2 separate regions of the Homo sapiens genome follow, and region 2 is linked to region 1. A link means that fine-mapping ties the variant in region 1 to the expression of a gene that starts in the linked region. Tissue or cell type: monocytes. Region 1 holds a variant in brackets; the other region holds the start of a gene. All regions are shown on one strand. Distances are from middle to middle.

Region 1 (8,103 bases):
AAAAAGCTAATCTAGACTTCTGGAAAATAAATCACAGGAGCTCCCCCAATCACTCTGGACACGGGTTTTTTAAAGCTTAATTTTGTTTTATAAGCCCTAAAAAAAAATAATAACCTGGACTCCTAGGTCTGACATTCAAGGCCCTTGGTGATGTTATCTCGCCTTCAGATGCCCAAGCTGATGCTCTACTCACCCTCAATGAGCTCTGGTGTCCTTCCTCCAACAAGCCTCCCTGACCACCCAGCCTGAGGCATCCACTTCCTTCCAGTCAGACATCGAGCTGAGTGTGAAATGCTATAGGCCACGGTGGGCACCACGGGACTGCTCACCCACCACACCACACAACTCAGAGTTCCATGAGGACAGAAGCAGCTTCTGCCACTACTGTCATCACCACAGCCCAGCAGGGTGCCCCACACGTAAAATGTGCTTAAATATTTGCTGAATAAAAGAATGAAGTGGTAGGAGTCAAGACTGGATCCCGGGCCGACCAACCCCCGCAGGGCAGAACCACACCTTTAGTCTCCACCATCTCAGAAGCAAAACCATGAGGCCTCCTAAATTCTGGTAGCCCAGTGAACATAACCCAAAAACTGTCACAAGAGCCAGACCTCCACCCTGCTATGAGTGCTGTTCCCTCTGCCTGGAACAGTACTATCTGCCATCTCCTATTCACCCTCAGGTGTCAGTGCTAACGTCACAGCCCCCGGGGACTTCCAATACCCTTCAAAACAGGCTCAGTCCCCATCTGGTGCCTCAGTCAATGCACAGTATGTCCCCTCCAAGGTCACACCTGACTGCAGTTACCTGTCCAGTATCCATCACCACCCATGAGGGCAGAGATGGGGCCTGTCACATCCCCACTGGATCGCCAGGGCCTACATCACAGCATAACAAATATTTTCTAAATTAGTGAATAATCCTGAACAGTGTGACCTAAGCCGTGAATATTTTTGAAGGAGTCTTTCATCATTTTTAATTTGGAGTCTTGCATCTTTAAAAGATGATCGTTTTAAAGGAACTTTGTCATAAATATCTAGGTGATACGTATCTTAAAGAAAACTCTAGACAAAGAGGATAAGTAAATGTACTTACAGTTGTGCTGTCCAATACCGTAGTGACTAACTACATGTGGCTATCTTCATTTACTCAAACCAGGTAACATTTAAAATTTAGTTCCTAAGTCACACTAATCACAATTCAAGTACTCAACAGCCACACGTGGCTCGTGGTTCCAGTACTGTGTCATATAGACACAGCGTAGAGCCGCCCTCCCAATAACGACCACTGGACAGCGCTGGCTTGGAGGGCATCCCGAGAACACAGGCATCCCCAAACAAGGAAACATCTCAATTCACCCTCTTCCTCCTGGGAAAGAATCCGTTCTCCCCTAAAGTTTCAGTGACTGAGAAAGCCATCAGTGAAAGCAAAACACTTGATTCTCTTGCCATCATTCAAATGATTCCCTCAGAGACTTCTCAACAGAAGTTCAACTACGGGCAGGTGTGCTCTTCAAACAAAAACCGATTCCCACAGTAGTAGAGGAACAACCACAATGACACAGAAAACCTATCAATATGTTATGTCTTTTTGTTATTTTCAATAAAGGTGACGTTCTGAATATGTAAATCAGATTTAAGTAAAGATATCCACAAATCGGGGAAAAATTTTGTCCACCACGGGGTAACTTTTACTTATAAAAAAAAAAAATCACACCAAATCTAGGAGAACAGAAAAACAGTAATCTCCATTAAAAGAATTTCCTACTATAGAATCTGCAGGAGGAGAAAAGTCACACAGTACAGCACAGAGCTGAATCTGTTCCTTTCAAGATCTGTGTAGCTGAGCCCGAGAGGCAATTGAGTTTCACTGGTATTCCTTTCAACCAACCTGACTAAACTGGACAGTGATCCCAAGGCCATTTTCTTCCCAACTCTGTTTTCAATAAAATACTATATTTATAATTTCTCTGCATTTACTTTTCCCTTTTCTCTAAGTCCTAATCTAAATCAAGCCCTTGTTCTGAAGCAATAACTAGAAACAGAGTTCCATTTAATTAAGAGTTCAATTTTCCAATAAAAAACAGTTGAACTGCAAACACAGACGGAGTAAAATGAGTCAAACGATTACCCATTTTGTAAGATTCTCGAATCTTAGTTCGTTTTCTTACAAACTGGTTCCCAAACTGCACTAGAGCTGGCACTGAAAGCCAAACAGGCAGGGGCAGAAGCTTCCCATGTATTCAGTGAGAAGCCTCCTGATTCCGGGTCAGGCTACATCATCTTAGTCCTCACTGGCCCAAGAAGTAGGTGATGGCTAATATTTTCCCATACAATTAAACAATAAAAACAGCTGCCTCAACCTGCTATATGCCAGGCACCCTAGTAGCCCCATGTACCAAGATAATCAAAGTAAGCAGAAGTAGAGCCAGGCACAGTGGCTCCATCTCACACCTGTAATTCCAGCTACTCAGGAGGCCGAGGCAGGATTGCTGAAGGATGGGAGTTCAAGACCAGCTTGGGCAAGCAAGACCCCATTGGAAAGAAGAAAAGTAATGTAAAGAAGGGGAGGGGAAGGGGAAGGGGAAGGAAGGAAAAGAAAGAAAGAGAAAAAAAGAAGGAAGGAAGGAAGGAAAAGAGAAAGAAAGAAAGAAAAAAGAAAGAAAGAAGAGAGAAGAGAAAGAAAAGAAACAAATGGAATACTGCAGGGTAAAAAGCCCCTTTTAGAGATCTCTCTCTCTCTCTCTCTCTCACTCACACACACACACACACACACACACACACACACACCCCACCCTGCAAAACTCAAATGTGATGTCACCAGCCCAAGTCACAGCGCTGCCGAGCTGGGAGCTGGGACTCACAGTCTACTCTGAGCAGGAGCCAGGGCTCCCTCCTCAGCACCACACTGACCGCCTCCCCGTATAAAAAGCTGACATTTCCTTCAACTGTGACTCACAGTTAGAAGGTTCTACTTTTAATCAGGTGACAAATACTCAAAATATTTTAATCCAAAGCAACTGGGTCAAACTCGTAGAGTCTATAATTGTCTAAGCAAACCCTAATTACCTGATAAATTTCTATAGCTCCTGAATGTCCTCATTCAGTTTGTAATCAAATACCCAAATCTCCTTATTTAAATGTTGTACAAGCCTTCTCTACATGTTATCATACAGAACAGTGACTTATTTTTCTATTTCACTGGTTATTTTAACCATAAAGTTAAAACATGTTTAGGTGGTGCAGTTTTAATAAGAAAAATCCAAACTAGGGGGAGGAGAAGCAGCTTGTGAATTATAAAAAGATTTGCTTTACAACAGAATTGTACAACTCCACTACACAACTACTTTTTCTCCTTACCACAGATTATGCAAATTCGAAAGGTTGAATTAGGTGCAACTGGAAAATATACCTACTGTATACAATATAGTACAGGCATATTAGAAAGGCAAATTAAGACATTTTCAAACAATAGCAGACAGTACAACTAGAAATGGGAAAGTAAAGTCAGATTTAATCATGTAGAATTATTTTCCCCATTAGATTTTACTATTCTTAGCAATGGTTCAACTAAACAGTCTTTTGATTAATGGAAATGAAACACCGGGGAAAATGTCACACGGGATAATATCCAAATCTTTCTTAAGGGTAAGTTTTAAAAGGAATTCAACTTTTAGAGACAGAGCTCAAAAATAGCCTTGCTTCCTAAATTTAGAACCAGAAAACACCCTAAAGGCAGTATTTTAAATACAGCCACAGTCACCGCCTATATTGTCTAGGAACTTAATAAAAAAAACTTTAAAAAGAGAGGGGCCACTTTTGTTTACTTCCATGCCTTTCACACAGCCTTGCCCAATTTGATTTGTGTGCCCTTGCTCAAATCTCTTCAAGTCACAGCTCAAATGGCAAAGACCTGACCACTCCAGGACGCCCCGGGGACTCTGCTCGTGGCCTATTGTAGCACCCCTGTCAGCAGAGCACGGCCCCAGGGAAAGGAGAACAGGCAAAAGCCCCCACAGGCACTGCTCCCAAGGCTTACACTTCTGCATCAAAGACTCATGCAATAGGAGAATTTTGCCGAAAGCCAAGTTTGAGCCTGACTGAGAAGAGCAGCATCCTTTTCCAGTTAAAGCAAGGAGTGTATCCGGAGGGATGCACTGCAAGGAAAAGACCTCAGAGAGGACTAAAGGGAACGCTGAGCGCATGTGCTAAAAAGCAGACGGCACGGCCAGGAGCTTCAGAGCCTAGGAGAGACGGGACAACCAGAAGAGGACTCAGATGTGAGCAAGCCATGGGCCTACAACGATACCCCAGGAAACAAACTGTCATGGTCAGGGTGCTTTTCCCAACAACCAGGAATGCATGGAAAACAGGCAGGCTTCCCCAACTCCTGGCTCTGTGCTGGCTCAGCAGAAGAGCTGTCACAGGAGCCCAAGGCTCCTCAACCATCCCAGGGCCTGCCTCCCACTGGGGCATGCGGCCCTGGACTTCTGCACACGGGGACACTCAGG[A/G]AACAGGGGAGGGAGTAAATGAAGCCTTATTCAGATCACCCTTTCTGGTTCCAGAGTTTTTGCACTTGACTGCATTTCTGTACCCTTTCCTTAAGTTTTGCCTCGAGGTTTCATCTTCTCAAGATGGTTCTAAGTACTCACAGGCATCTATCAGAATCCTGTGTACACTGCTAATGCTTAACAGGTACCTCAAGATAAATTATACACAGTAAACAAACAGAATCACATACTTGTCTGCTGCTTAAACAGTCCATGAAATATGCTTCAAAATTATCAATAATTTTCAGTGTACATCCTGATTTGATTTAAAAGAAAAAATAATTCAGAACACACACCATTTAAGTTTTCGTAATTTTAAGCTTTCATGGCCATCACGTTCCTATTTTTAAAAATACAATAAAAAATGGAGACAGAGTCAATGGTATAGATGACAGAATTCCCGGCTATGTATCTGCTGAGGTGCTACACTATCACACGCGTGCCTGCACACTGGTTTCTGTGGATACGAGCACACATGGCTTCTGTCCTTTCCAGAACTGCTGAGAAACAGGTCTTGCTCCAATCAGACTAGCACTCCCAGTAAGTCCTAGGACTTACAAGGTACGACAACGTCCCTGGTTAACGCTAGTGTCAGTTCCCATTGGGCGGATATGCCAGACACACATCATCTCAGGCTACCCTCATAACCACCCTGAGATGGGAATTGTTATTATCTCCATGTTACAGATGAGGAAACTCTGAGCTCAGAGAGCTGATGTAACTTGCCCCAAACATGCTCTGGCCTCAGCACTCCTAAGGCCAGCTGGTTTGGTGGCCGGGTGGGAGCCCATGGGTACGGAACTCGGAAGCAAATAACAGACCCAATTAGAAGATAGGTGGCAATCTGCTTGAAAGTAAAACCTTAACAAGAAAATGATAAGAACTTTAAGGGACAAATACTATATAATTCTTTCACTAATTCCCTCAAATATTTCCTGAGGGCCTACTATGTGTCAGGCACTGCCCCTGGGGAGGGAAGTGCTGGGAAGAGGGCCGTGGAAAGGCTCTGGAGTTCTTACTGACGCTCACCTTCTGGTGTCACAGGAAGGGGAGCAAGCCTAGAGCCTGAGATGACAAAGACGGACGAGAAATGCCATGTGGGCCACTGGGGTCAACAAAAAGCAAAAGAACAAAGAAAAATGCAACCGGTCACCAGGCTTTCTGATAAATTCGTCTGATTTTAAATCAAGTCATCCATATAACTGTTACAGAGGAACAAAAAAGACAGAGAGAGAGGGCCCTGCTAAGCTCTGAAGTGCTCCAAGACAGGAGACCCAAGCTAGCCTGCTGCTCACCTGGGCTCTCCCGGGCTCCACATCATGCAGCTCAGAAAACTTGCCCTGCTGCTGTTTTCCTTAAAGCTGTCTGTGCAGCCGTGGTAGGCCAGTGCTCCCCAACGGGTGCTCAGAGAATGAAGTCCCACGTTATATCAGTCACCAAATTGCAGCCCATGGGCGAAGTCCTCAGATGCCAGTCTTTACAACTAGAGTTTTACTGGAACACAGCCAGGCCCACTCGCCTATGGCTACTTTCTTGCTGAAATGGCAGCCTTGAGTAGTTGCAACAAGAGACCATATGGCTCAGAAAGCCAAATGCGTGCTCTCTGGCCCTTTGCAGAGGAAGTCTGCGGACCCATAATAGGCTAAAAAGAGTTCTAGCGTCAAACAGGATTGAGAGTGGTCCAACTGTAGCCCCTCTCTCACAGTGCCCAATCAGGACACCAAGGCTCTGGGAAAGTCTGCAGTCAAATTCCTCAGCTACAAGCAACAGCATCTGAGCACAAACCATTTGTTGAGAAATACCTCTTAGCATGCCCTCTAGTTTCTTGGAATACATGTGAAGAGCTGGTTTGAGTAAGGTAAAGAGGGGTGCCCTCACTAATGGGACCCCAAAAACTAAACTGACAAGCTTTTGCAATCTTCAGAAACTCACAATAAGGTACATTTCATCTTAACTAAGGTAAGACACACTTTGGCAAAATCATTTTCCTAACTGTTTTCAAATACATCAAGTAAAAACACAAGTCAGCAATTATGGACCCCCCAGGTAATCACATACTTTGCCACACAATTACAACACACTACTTAGAAGCTGTGAAAACACAGGCGACTAATCTAAGCATCAACTTCCAACTGCAGGACTCAGTCTCTTTGTAAGTTATGTTCAATTCTGTTTACAGAATCAAATCTGAATGTTCAGCCAGGAGCGACTTTCCATCTTCTGAAGGCCCTCTAAGGCGCCCTGCACATGACTTGTCCTTGCCTACCTTCATCCCTGACGACCTTTGAATGGGGCCACCGCTCTCACCCCTCTCAGTTATTCAAAAACGAAGCACGGTCATGAAATGTCCTAGTCCTAAAAGTCTCTATGACAACTTTTATTCCTACTTAGCCAGAACTCACTGATGGGGTAACATAACCGTTTCTCATTCTCCCTGAGGTAAACAGGAACACGAGCCCACACACGTCACGCTGAGGATAACACCAGAACCAGAGGGAAAAGGGGGACGCCCTAACCCAGGAGGAAGAATACACTCCTGGCTGCCCCCACCACAGGTGGTTACAAACCTCCCCCTTAGTGATCTCATTCATGTGCGGGAAGGCCGCTACTGAAACTCACTAAGCTTGGCAGGTTCCTGGGTCGATTCAAGTAAATGCATTGTTTACAGATAGAGACTTAGAAAATAAATATATAGAGCTACGGACTTTAACAATCTAGTTTGGATCTGGTTTTGACCCTGTATCACCTCTCAAGTCCAGTTCCTCACCTAGAAAATAGCAGTAACAGCATCTTCCCTTCCTCACAGGACGCTGTAAGGATCAAACTGAGGTGACGTGGAGAAAAGCACTCTGATACATAAAGTACCAGACATACATAACAGACCATTTGGTTGACAACCATATTCGCCACCAGCTTTCTTTAAATAAGCTTCCCTATTGCATTTAAAAGGATTCACGTCATAAAATGTAATCACAACTGCTTAGAGCCACTTATACAGCACAGGATGAAACACAGCTATGTTCAATCTTCAGAATGTAGTTTTTCTTTTCCTTTTTCCCCCAGAGACAGGGTCTCACTCTGTCACCCAGGCCAGAGTGCAGTGGCATGATCACAGCTCACTGCAGCCTCGACCTCCTGGGCTCAAGCGATCCTCCTGCCACAGCCTCCTGAATAGCTGGGATTACAGGATTGTACTATTACACCCAACTAATTAAAAAAATTTTTTGTTTAGATGGGGTCTCACTATGTTGTCCAGGCTGGTCTCCAACTGCTGGCCTCAAGCAATCCTCCTGTCTCAGTCTCCCTAAGCACTGGGATTATAGGCATGAGCCACCACCCTGGCCTGCAATTTCAAAAAACTTTATAAACAGTCTGTTGTGTGCAAATTTTGCAATAAAGCTGACCAAAAAAAAAAAAAAAAAAAAAAAAAAACAACCCAGAAAACAAAAAACAAAAGTCTACTGCTTGCCTGGATATTTGTCTTATACTGTTAAATCATGAATCTCTGATGTTGAAAGACACAATATGCTATTTTAACTTGGACATATTAAATA
Region 2 (8,093 bases), 220 kb before region 1:
TTCCTACAAGTTTTGTTTATTCTAGTTTTGTTTGTAAGTAGGTTGTGTGAGTTAATTCATGGATATTTACTATATGTCTTTTAAATTAGAAAACATTTGTTATTATGTATGTCCTTTTAGATTTTACCTGCAGCTCATACTTTGAAATCATCACCCAGTAGTGTCTTACTCTAGCATCGTCTAAATCTGAGCATCATCTGGTGGAATCTTAAATTTCAGTAGAAACCACGAGTTATTAATACATCTTCCACTCAAGTATCAATTTCAGAAGGAAACGTAAATGAATATTCTAAATAAGGCTAATTTGTATTAATCTGCCTTTATGTTTGAGGGAAAAAAAGCTGAGACATTGCATGAAAGATGATGCAGGATATACGCTGATCTTTTGGCCCCAATGAGCTATTTGAACATTGTCCTGTTTATTGTTAGTTTTCTTCATCATTTATTATATGGTCAATTTTTGAATTCCTGTAATATGAAACCTTATTCTATCTTTTAACTTACTGTTACCTAAAGTTAGTAAGTCCAGATTATATGGTCATTCAAAAAAAAAAAAAAAAAGAAAAGAAAAAGAAATCCCCCACAGTTCCATTTATTAAATAAGTAAACCCCAATAATAAGCATTTGTGTCCTGGCAACTTATAGTGGATGTCTAGAAAAGTAATACATAAAGAGAAATGTTCATGTTATTTGTTTAGTCATGGGATGTGTGTGCCTGTCGAGCACCTCTTCAACTTGGAATCTGGTAGAACACCGCCACCCTCATTGCCTCATTTTTCCACGTCGACCTTCACAGTAATTGCTTGTTCAGTGACTGCCACAACCCAGCCTGGCAGAGAGAGGGAAGATACCCTATAAAGCAAGGTAACGTTAATGTTGAGACCATGAATGGCCTTGAGCAGAGCAGAGTATCATTGCTTCCTTCAAAATTCAGAAGGATCTGATGGTGCTCTGTGAGTTCATGGGGGTGCCTCCGTGCAGGTTGGAAACCACAGCTGTGCGTCCTTCCCGCTTTCCCTCTTGATCAGTAGAAGGGTACCCTCCCTGGCCTGCACGTCGCTGGGTCACACAACACTGGCTGTCGTTGCACAAAGCCACGGCCACCAGCGTTCCTTTGAGGCCATTTGTTTCCAGCCATGGTGCCTATAGGATTTTTCCTTTATCCTGTAATTTCAGCCAAATCAGAGCATGTGACCTGGCTTAGATGTCAATATAATTGTTGTTATGTGCTCTTTTCCCTTCCTGTGTCTGTGACAGGTTTAATTTAACCTGAGAAGGCTGCAGATCCTCGGGGTTGGTGTAAAAACACCTCATCCTGATCTGAGAAGGCGGTCAGCTTTTCTCCTCGTTGCCGTTGGCTGCCAGCACCCATTCTCTGTGGATGTGAAAATCCCAGAAGGGCTGGGCTTCCTTCTTGGGCATTCCCCAGGCCTATCTCCAGAGTGGGGCCCAGCATGGGAGGATTGTACCCCACTCACTCCCCTGATGTGGGGCTTGGACCTACAGCTCGACAGCACCCATGGAATGTGGGCAGAAGCGACAGCAGCCAGCTCCGCCTTGGCCTTAGGGCGGCACGTGTTCTGCTTGTGCCCTGGGAGCCTCCACCTTCCACACTGTGGGAAGAGGGTGCCCAGGGAGCTGCAGTCTCTCCAGCCCAGCCCCAGGACGAGGCCCAGGCAGCAGAGCCACCCCAGCAGACCTGGCAGTGTGAGAGAAATGCATGTGTATACACTGAGTTTGCAGGTGGCTGTTACATGGCAGCATTGACTGACACAGACAGAAAAGAGATCCACGAGGGAGAAGTGAGAGTGCTGGAGACTCCACAAGCCACAGGCTGCAGGGGCAGGATGGCTTCTTAGAAGGTGAAATGATTGTTCTGGGAATCTATCAGAGGAAGACATAGAGGCTCCAGACGGTTGAAGGCCCAACAGTGATCCCAGACGGGCCCCATGTCAGACCAGGCTCCTCCAGGGCTGTGCTGCCCTCACCAAAGCCCGTCCTGAGGGCAGCCACACAGCAGGCAGCACTCGCCATTTGTACAAGCGAGGCCCAAGTTCCAGCCTTCCTTCTGGCAGGTAGAGGAAGCAGGGGCACTATGCCTGGGAGTTCCTGAAAGCAGATGGGGCAGCATTTGGTCAAGAGCCAGGAGGGGATGACAGACCAGAGGGGAACCCTCGTCCCACGTGCTGAGCACACGTAGGGGGTTGGGCACTTGCTCTGTGAGCTATAATTGGTGTCCCTGTGCCCCGCCGGAAGCTGCACCAGGCAGTTTCTTGGTGGAGGACAGTGGCCGCCCTCTAGCTTTACTCCCTTCCCCGTGATGGGTCGCTGTCAGATGTGTGTCCAGGAAAGGCAAACACCAAAGGCAGAGGACTAGTCCCTACACCGAATACTCCGGTGGCCTTGCTTGGGGGCTGGGTTTTGACGTGCTGGAGGCTGTCCTAGACTTAGAGATTAAAAACAGGGAAGAACCATTGCTGAAACCTTTGGAAAAGCCTGCAATGGGGCCTCTGGCAGCCTGAGGAGTGGTGGTGTTTCCATCTGGTAGACGCCGTCTCAATAGGAGGGACAGATGAGTGCACCAGTGCTGCCAGCCAGAGGCGTCTGTTGGCGTGTCTTTATGGAATGGGGTGCCAGTCTTGTGGAGGGTGGTTTACCTTCCTGTTTCTAGTCCCCACTGGGCCTGCCTTCTGCTTCATGGCCAGCTGGCCAGACCGAGCACTTTCCTGACTTTCGACCTTGGCCCCTGCTGACTCTTGCCGTTGAGGCCTCCTGCAGACCCCATTTGTATTCATTTCCTGCAGTTCTCATACCTGAATCCCGCCTGGACTTCTGCCAAGCCTTCCAGGCCCTCCTCCCCCAGGGGGACCACAGATGCTACGTGCAGGGCTGTCCTTGGAGGGCCAGCACAGCCCCTTCCAAGTGGGCAAGACCCAGGGGTGGCTCAAAAGATAGCTGTGCCCTAGCCCTGGAACCTCTGAATGTTGATTTTTGTAGCAAAAAAGGACTTGCAGATGTGAGTAAAGGCTGTTGAGATAAGGACATCCTCCCTGCTCTCTGGGAGGACCCCAAATGCAGGTGCACAGATCTTAAGAAGAAGAGGCAGAGACTGGGGTGATGCAGCCACAACTAAGGAAAGCCAAGGATTGCTGGCAGCCTGCAGAAACTGGAGGGCAAGGAGCATCCCCCAACCGCCCGGAGCCTCCAGGAGGCGCAAGGTCCTACTGACTCCCTGACTTCAGACGTCCAGTCTCCGGAATTTTGAGAGGATCCATTTCTGTTATTTTAAGCAACCAAACTTGTGGTAGTTTCACCAGTCTCAGGAAATGAATACGAATGGAAAGTCAAAGATTCCAAGAAATGAGTGGCGGGGTGCGGTGGCTCACACTTGTAATCCCAGCATTTGCGGGAAGATTGCTTGGGCTCAGGACTTGGAGACCTTGTGTCTGTGAGAAACTTAAAAAATAGGCTGGGTGCGATGGCTCACGCCTGTAATCCCAGCACTTTGGGAGGCCGAGGCAGGCGGATCACAAGGTCACGAGTTTGAGACCAGTGTGACCAACATGGTGAAACCCTGTCTCTACTAAAAATACAAAAATTAGCCGGGTGTGGTGGTGCGTGCCTGTAATCCCAGCTACTCGGGAGGCTGAGGCAGAAGAATTGCTTGAACCCAGGAAGCAGAGGTTGCAGTGAGCCGAGATAGTATTACTGCACTCCAGGCTGGGCAGCAGAGCAAGATTCCGCCTCAAAAAAAAAAAAAAAAAAAAAAAAAAAAAAAAAAACTGAGCATGGTAGCATGCACCTGTGGTCCTGGCTACGCCGGAGGATTGCCTGAAGCCAGGAGTTCAAGACCAGTCTGGACAAAAGAGCAAGACCCCATCTCTACCAAAAAAATTTAAAAATTAGCCAGGCATGGTGCCGTACCCATAGTCTTAGCTACTCAGGAGGCTGAGGAGGGAGGATTATCTGAGCCCTGGCGGTTGAGGCTATAATGAGCCATGATTGTGCCACTGCACTCCAGCCTTGGCAACACAGTGTGAGACCCTGTCTCAAAAACAATAAAAACCCAAAACAAAAGAACCAAGAAATTACTGGACCTGAGGCCTGGCCTTTAGCTGCTGCCCTGCCCTTGTGACCTGGTCACTCGGGATCCCCTGGGCCTAAACACACAGCCTATTGTCTACCTCAAGAAGGCTCCCCACTGCTTGGCTGGCAATTGGGGTGGGCTTTGCAGGCCCCACCTGTCCTGGCCCCACGGCGCTGGTGCTGCAGGCCCCCACCACTGCTTGTTCCGAGCTCCCCAGCCTCCTGCAGAGTTGCCTGCACCTGATGGCGATGAATCAGGAAGGCAGGCGTGTCCTGGGCCACAGAGCAGTCATGGCTGTCAGCCACCAGGGGGCTCCATTTGCAACTTTGGATGTGGCTTTGGCCTCTTTGTCCAAAGTGACCTTGGGGCCCCCAGACAAGAGACAGGGAGACTGGAGCCCAGCCCCACCCTCCCGCACATACCTGGCCCATCCCTGCCCTATCCTGGAAGATGGGGGCCACCACACGTGCAAGGGACACGGGATAGGAACCTTTGGCCTTGTTATCAGACATTTTAAAACTAAGTGCAAACGTGATTATCAGGTGCAGTTTTTACAGCAGCAAGAAACCTGTGCTTACAGAAAGAAACACGTGCTAGCAACCCACCTATGCGGAAAGCCACACAGAGCCATTGTTTTCTGCACTCTCAGGTGACGGCTCACATTTGCCCCAGGGAAGGTCACAGCTGCCTGAACTTTTAAAACTCCCAGACACGCACTGCCTGTGCAGGATCCGGAGCCCAGCAGCACTGCCAGGGCCTTGAAGTGCTTCTTCAGAGACCTTTCTTCATAGACTACTTTTTTTTCTTTAAGCAGCAAAAGGAGAAAATTGTCATCAAAGGATATTCCAGATTCTTGACAGCATTCTCGTCATCTCTGAGGACATCACCATCATCTCAGGTGAGCACCAGGTGGAGTGCCTCTGGGTGACTGGCCGGTTTGGAGCAGGGAGGGAGGCTTAGAGTCTCATCCTCCAGCAGCGAGTGAGGCGGAGGCTCCAGCGTCCCTCCCGGGCGGGTTTTCTGGTGGATGGAGGAGTGACTCGGGGTCCTCTACGTGGTGCCAGCTGTTTGGCTTTCTGGACGTTGTAGGAAAGGGTTTCCCCCGCCTGCGTCCCCCTGACCTTGAGCTCCACCAGCCCCTGCCAGCTGGGCTCCAGAAGGCTGGAGTGCTGTGGCAGGGATGACGTCTCACTTCTGTTATGTCTCTGTGCCCTGTGCTCTCCCAGGATGAGGGGCATGAAGCTGCTGGGGGCGCTGCTGGCACTGGCGGCCCTACTGCAGGGGGCCGTGTCCCTGAAGATCGCAGCCTTCAACATCCAGACATTTGGGGAGACCAAGATGTCCAATGCCACCCTCGTCAGCTACATTGTGCAGGTGAGGCCAGGGCAGCCTCCCCCCAAAAGCAGAGGAGCTCTGGAGTCTAGGGCTGGTGGGCAGGGCCAGCCCTATGGAGCCACAGGGTGTCGGGTGTGGGGTACTGAGCACCACTGCTCCCAGCACGGTGGAACAGGCTCTTGGCTGTGGACCAAGGTCCTCATCCCTGCTGTGCTGTCCCTGGCTGGCAGCAGGAGCCCAGGCAGAAACATGAGGCTGCGGTTAAACCGAGCAATGCCACGAGCATCAGCTGTGGCTCCCTTTGTGGCGCTGTAGGGTCCCTGGGTGGCACCAGCCCTGCTCAGCACCACTGTGGCCCTGCCCCCAGATCCTGAGCCGCTATGACATCGCCCTGGTCCAGGAGGTCAGAGACAGCCACCTGACTGCCGTGGGGAAGCTGCTGGACAACCTCAATCAGTGGGTGACAGTGGCAGGGTCATAGGAAGGTGACATCTCGTCCACGGCACAGCCTCACTTCACTTGGGCCCCAAGGGTGGGGACCTGGGCACAGCCTCGCTATCGGCAGCCAGAGGGGTCCCCTATGGCCCCCGCCACTGGGACCTTTTGTTTCTTCAATCCAGGGATGCACCAGACACCTATCACTACGTGGTCAGTGAGCCACTGGGACGGAACAGCTATAAGGAGCGCTACCTGTTCGTGTACAGGTGGGTGGTCTAGAAAGCCAGGAAGCCCCTCCCTCACCTGGGAGGGCCCCAACAGAGCAGGGAAGTAGTTTGTCCTATTAGTTTGTCCTATGGCAAGAACCTGAGGCTTCAGAGCAGGGTCCAGGGTGGAGTGAAAACACCCCAAGGTCCCGGACCAATGGGTTGAGCAGGTGCCTGGCTCCCCCGCCCTCCTGTCGCCTGGGTCCCGGACCAATGGGTTGAGCAGGTGCCTGGCTCCCCCGCCCTCCTGTCGCCTGGGTCCCGGACCAATGGGTTGAGCAGGTGCCTGGCTCCCCCGCCCTCCTGTCGCCTGGGTCCCGGACCAATGGGTTGAGCAGGTGCCTGGCTCCCCCGCCCTCCTGTCGCCTGGGACGCGACGCCTGCCTCCTGGGAAGCAGGAGTGGGGCAGCTTCCAGCCTGGGGTCACCTCCTCCTGCCCGGCCTTCCCGCAGGCCTGACCAGGTGTCTGCGGTGGACAGCTACTACTACGATGATGGCTGCGAGCCCTGCGGGAACGACACCTTCAACCGAGAGCCAGCCATTGTCAGGTTCTTCTCCCGGTTCACAGGTGGGTGCTGCCTGGGCCAGGGTGGGGCTCGGCTTGGCGCTTATGGCCTCCACCCCCTCCTAGGGAACCTGGAATGCCTGTGTCACACACTGCCCTCCCAGTCCCTGGGGCTTGGGTTTTCCATTCAAGTCATTTGGAAAATATCCACCCCCCGGGGGGACTGTCATGATACATAGTTCCAGCTGACATGGTGACTGAACCTGCCCCCAGGGAGTGTGCCTCACACGACGTGGCTGTCTCCACAGAGGTCAGGGAGTTTGCCATTGTTCCCCTGCATGCGGCCCCGGGGGACGCAGTAGCCGAGATCGACGCTCTCTATGACGTCTACCTGGATGTCCAAGAGAAATGGGGCTTGGAGGTGAGGCCCTCCCAGGGGCAGTGGGCACCAGCGGCCTCCGCATGTCCCAGGGCCACAGGCAGCGTTTCCTGGTAGGACGTCATGTTGATGGGCGACTTCAATGCGGGCTGCAGCTATGTGAGACCCTCCCAGTGGTCATCCATCCGCCTGTGGACAAGCCCCACCTTCCAGTGGCTGATCCCCGACAGCGCTGACACCACAGCTACACCCACGCACTGTGCCTATGACAGGTGAGCAGGGCCTCGCGCTTAGGGCAGACTGAGGGCACCTCCAAGGGCAGCCGTGACTCATAGGTCGGGCTTCAGAAGCCTCAAAGCCTTTGAACACTCACCCAACTGAGCTTCAGTTGATCCACTACAGGGAACAGAATAACAAGAGCCACGATTTTTAGGTTTTTTCGGAAAAGCACATCTGGGGATAAGAGGAGAGGCAGACACCTAGGCTGTCATGTGGTTTCCACATTGAGGGGCACAGACCAGGGTGTGCAGTTTTGGGCACCCACAGACCTGCACTGGCAGGTCCCAGGGCTCTTAGTTTAGTTCCTGCGGGTGCTGAGCCAGGCCCATGTGTGAAAGGGGAACCTACTTTCTCTTCCCAACACCCATCAGGATCGTGGTTGCAGGGATGCTGCTCCGAGGCGCCGTTGTTCCCGACTCGGCTCTTCCCTTTAACTTCCAGGCTGCCTATGGCCTGAGTGACCAACTGGTATGTGTCCTCCCTTGCACAGCCACATGAGGATGGGACACAGGAGCTCAGGTAGGCTCAGCCCAGACCCTGTGCCCACTTGCCTGCAGGCCCAAGCCATCAGTGACCACTATCCAGTGGAGGTGATGCTGAAGTGAGCAGCCCCTCCCCACACCAGTTGAACTGCAGGAAGAGAGGACCCATCCTGCCACAGGACCCAGAAAAAAAGCCCAACACACACTCGGGTTAAGAAATACCTTTAAATTTAGGTAAATAAAGCTCAAGGAGGTGGGGCTGTCATCTGTGGTGTCAGTCCTTCTGGCCCCCTGGCTGTCAGTGTCGCTCCAGGGCCTTGAC

Evidence for each region. PIP is the estimated chance that this variant, and not a neighbour inherited with it, causes the effect.
Region 2: it holds the start of DNASE1, and the variant in region 1 is fine-mapped to the expression of DNASE1 in monocytes (Quach 2016, PIP 0.95).

Annotation. Positions count from the first base shown.
Region 1 is chr16:3,868,446-3,876,548 of GRCh38, forward strand. All of the region lies in intron 1 of CREBBP (CREB binding lysine acetyltransferase), which reads right to left. Among named protein-coding and RNA genes, the nearest start is that of CREBBP, 8.2 kb to the right of the region's middle. RefSeq lists silencers at 2,763-3,057, 3,963-4,257 and an enhancer at 3,594-4,129. The variant A/G (reference allele first, on the strand shown) is at 4,511.
Region 2 is chr16:3,650,060-3,658,152 of GRCh38, forward strand. It overlaps DNASE1 (deoxyribonuclease 1), which reads left to right and starts at 4,632. Exons shown (of 9, transcript NM_005223.4): 1 at 4,632-4,985; 2 at 5,314-5,461; 3 at 5,790-5,878; 4 at 6,043-6,126; 5 at 6,579-6,694; 6 at 6,940-7,052; 7 at 7,128-7,282; 8 at 7,661-7,757; 9 at 7,847-8,036. The coding sequence starts at 5,315. The coding sequence ends at 7,894. TRAP1 (TNF receptor associated protein 1) reads right to left here. Exons shown (of 18, transcript NM_016292.3): 18 at 7,978-8,093. The coding sequence ends at 8,070. LOC124903631 (a long non-coding RNA gene) reads right to left here and starts at 7,708. Exons shown (of 2, transcript XR_007064954.1): 1 at 7,638-7,708; 2 at 577-7,463. RefSeq lists enhancers at 4,809-5,336, 5,337-5,864.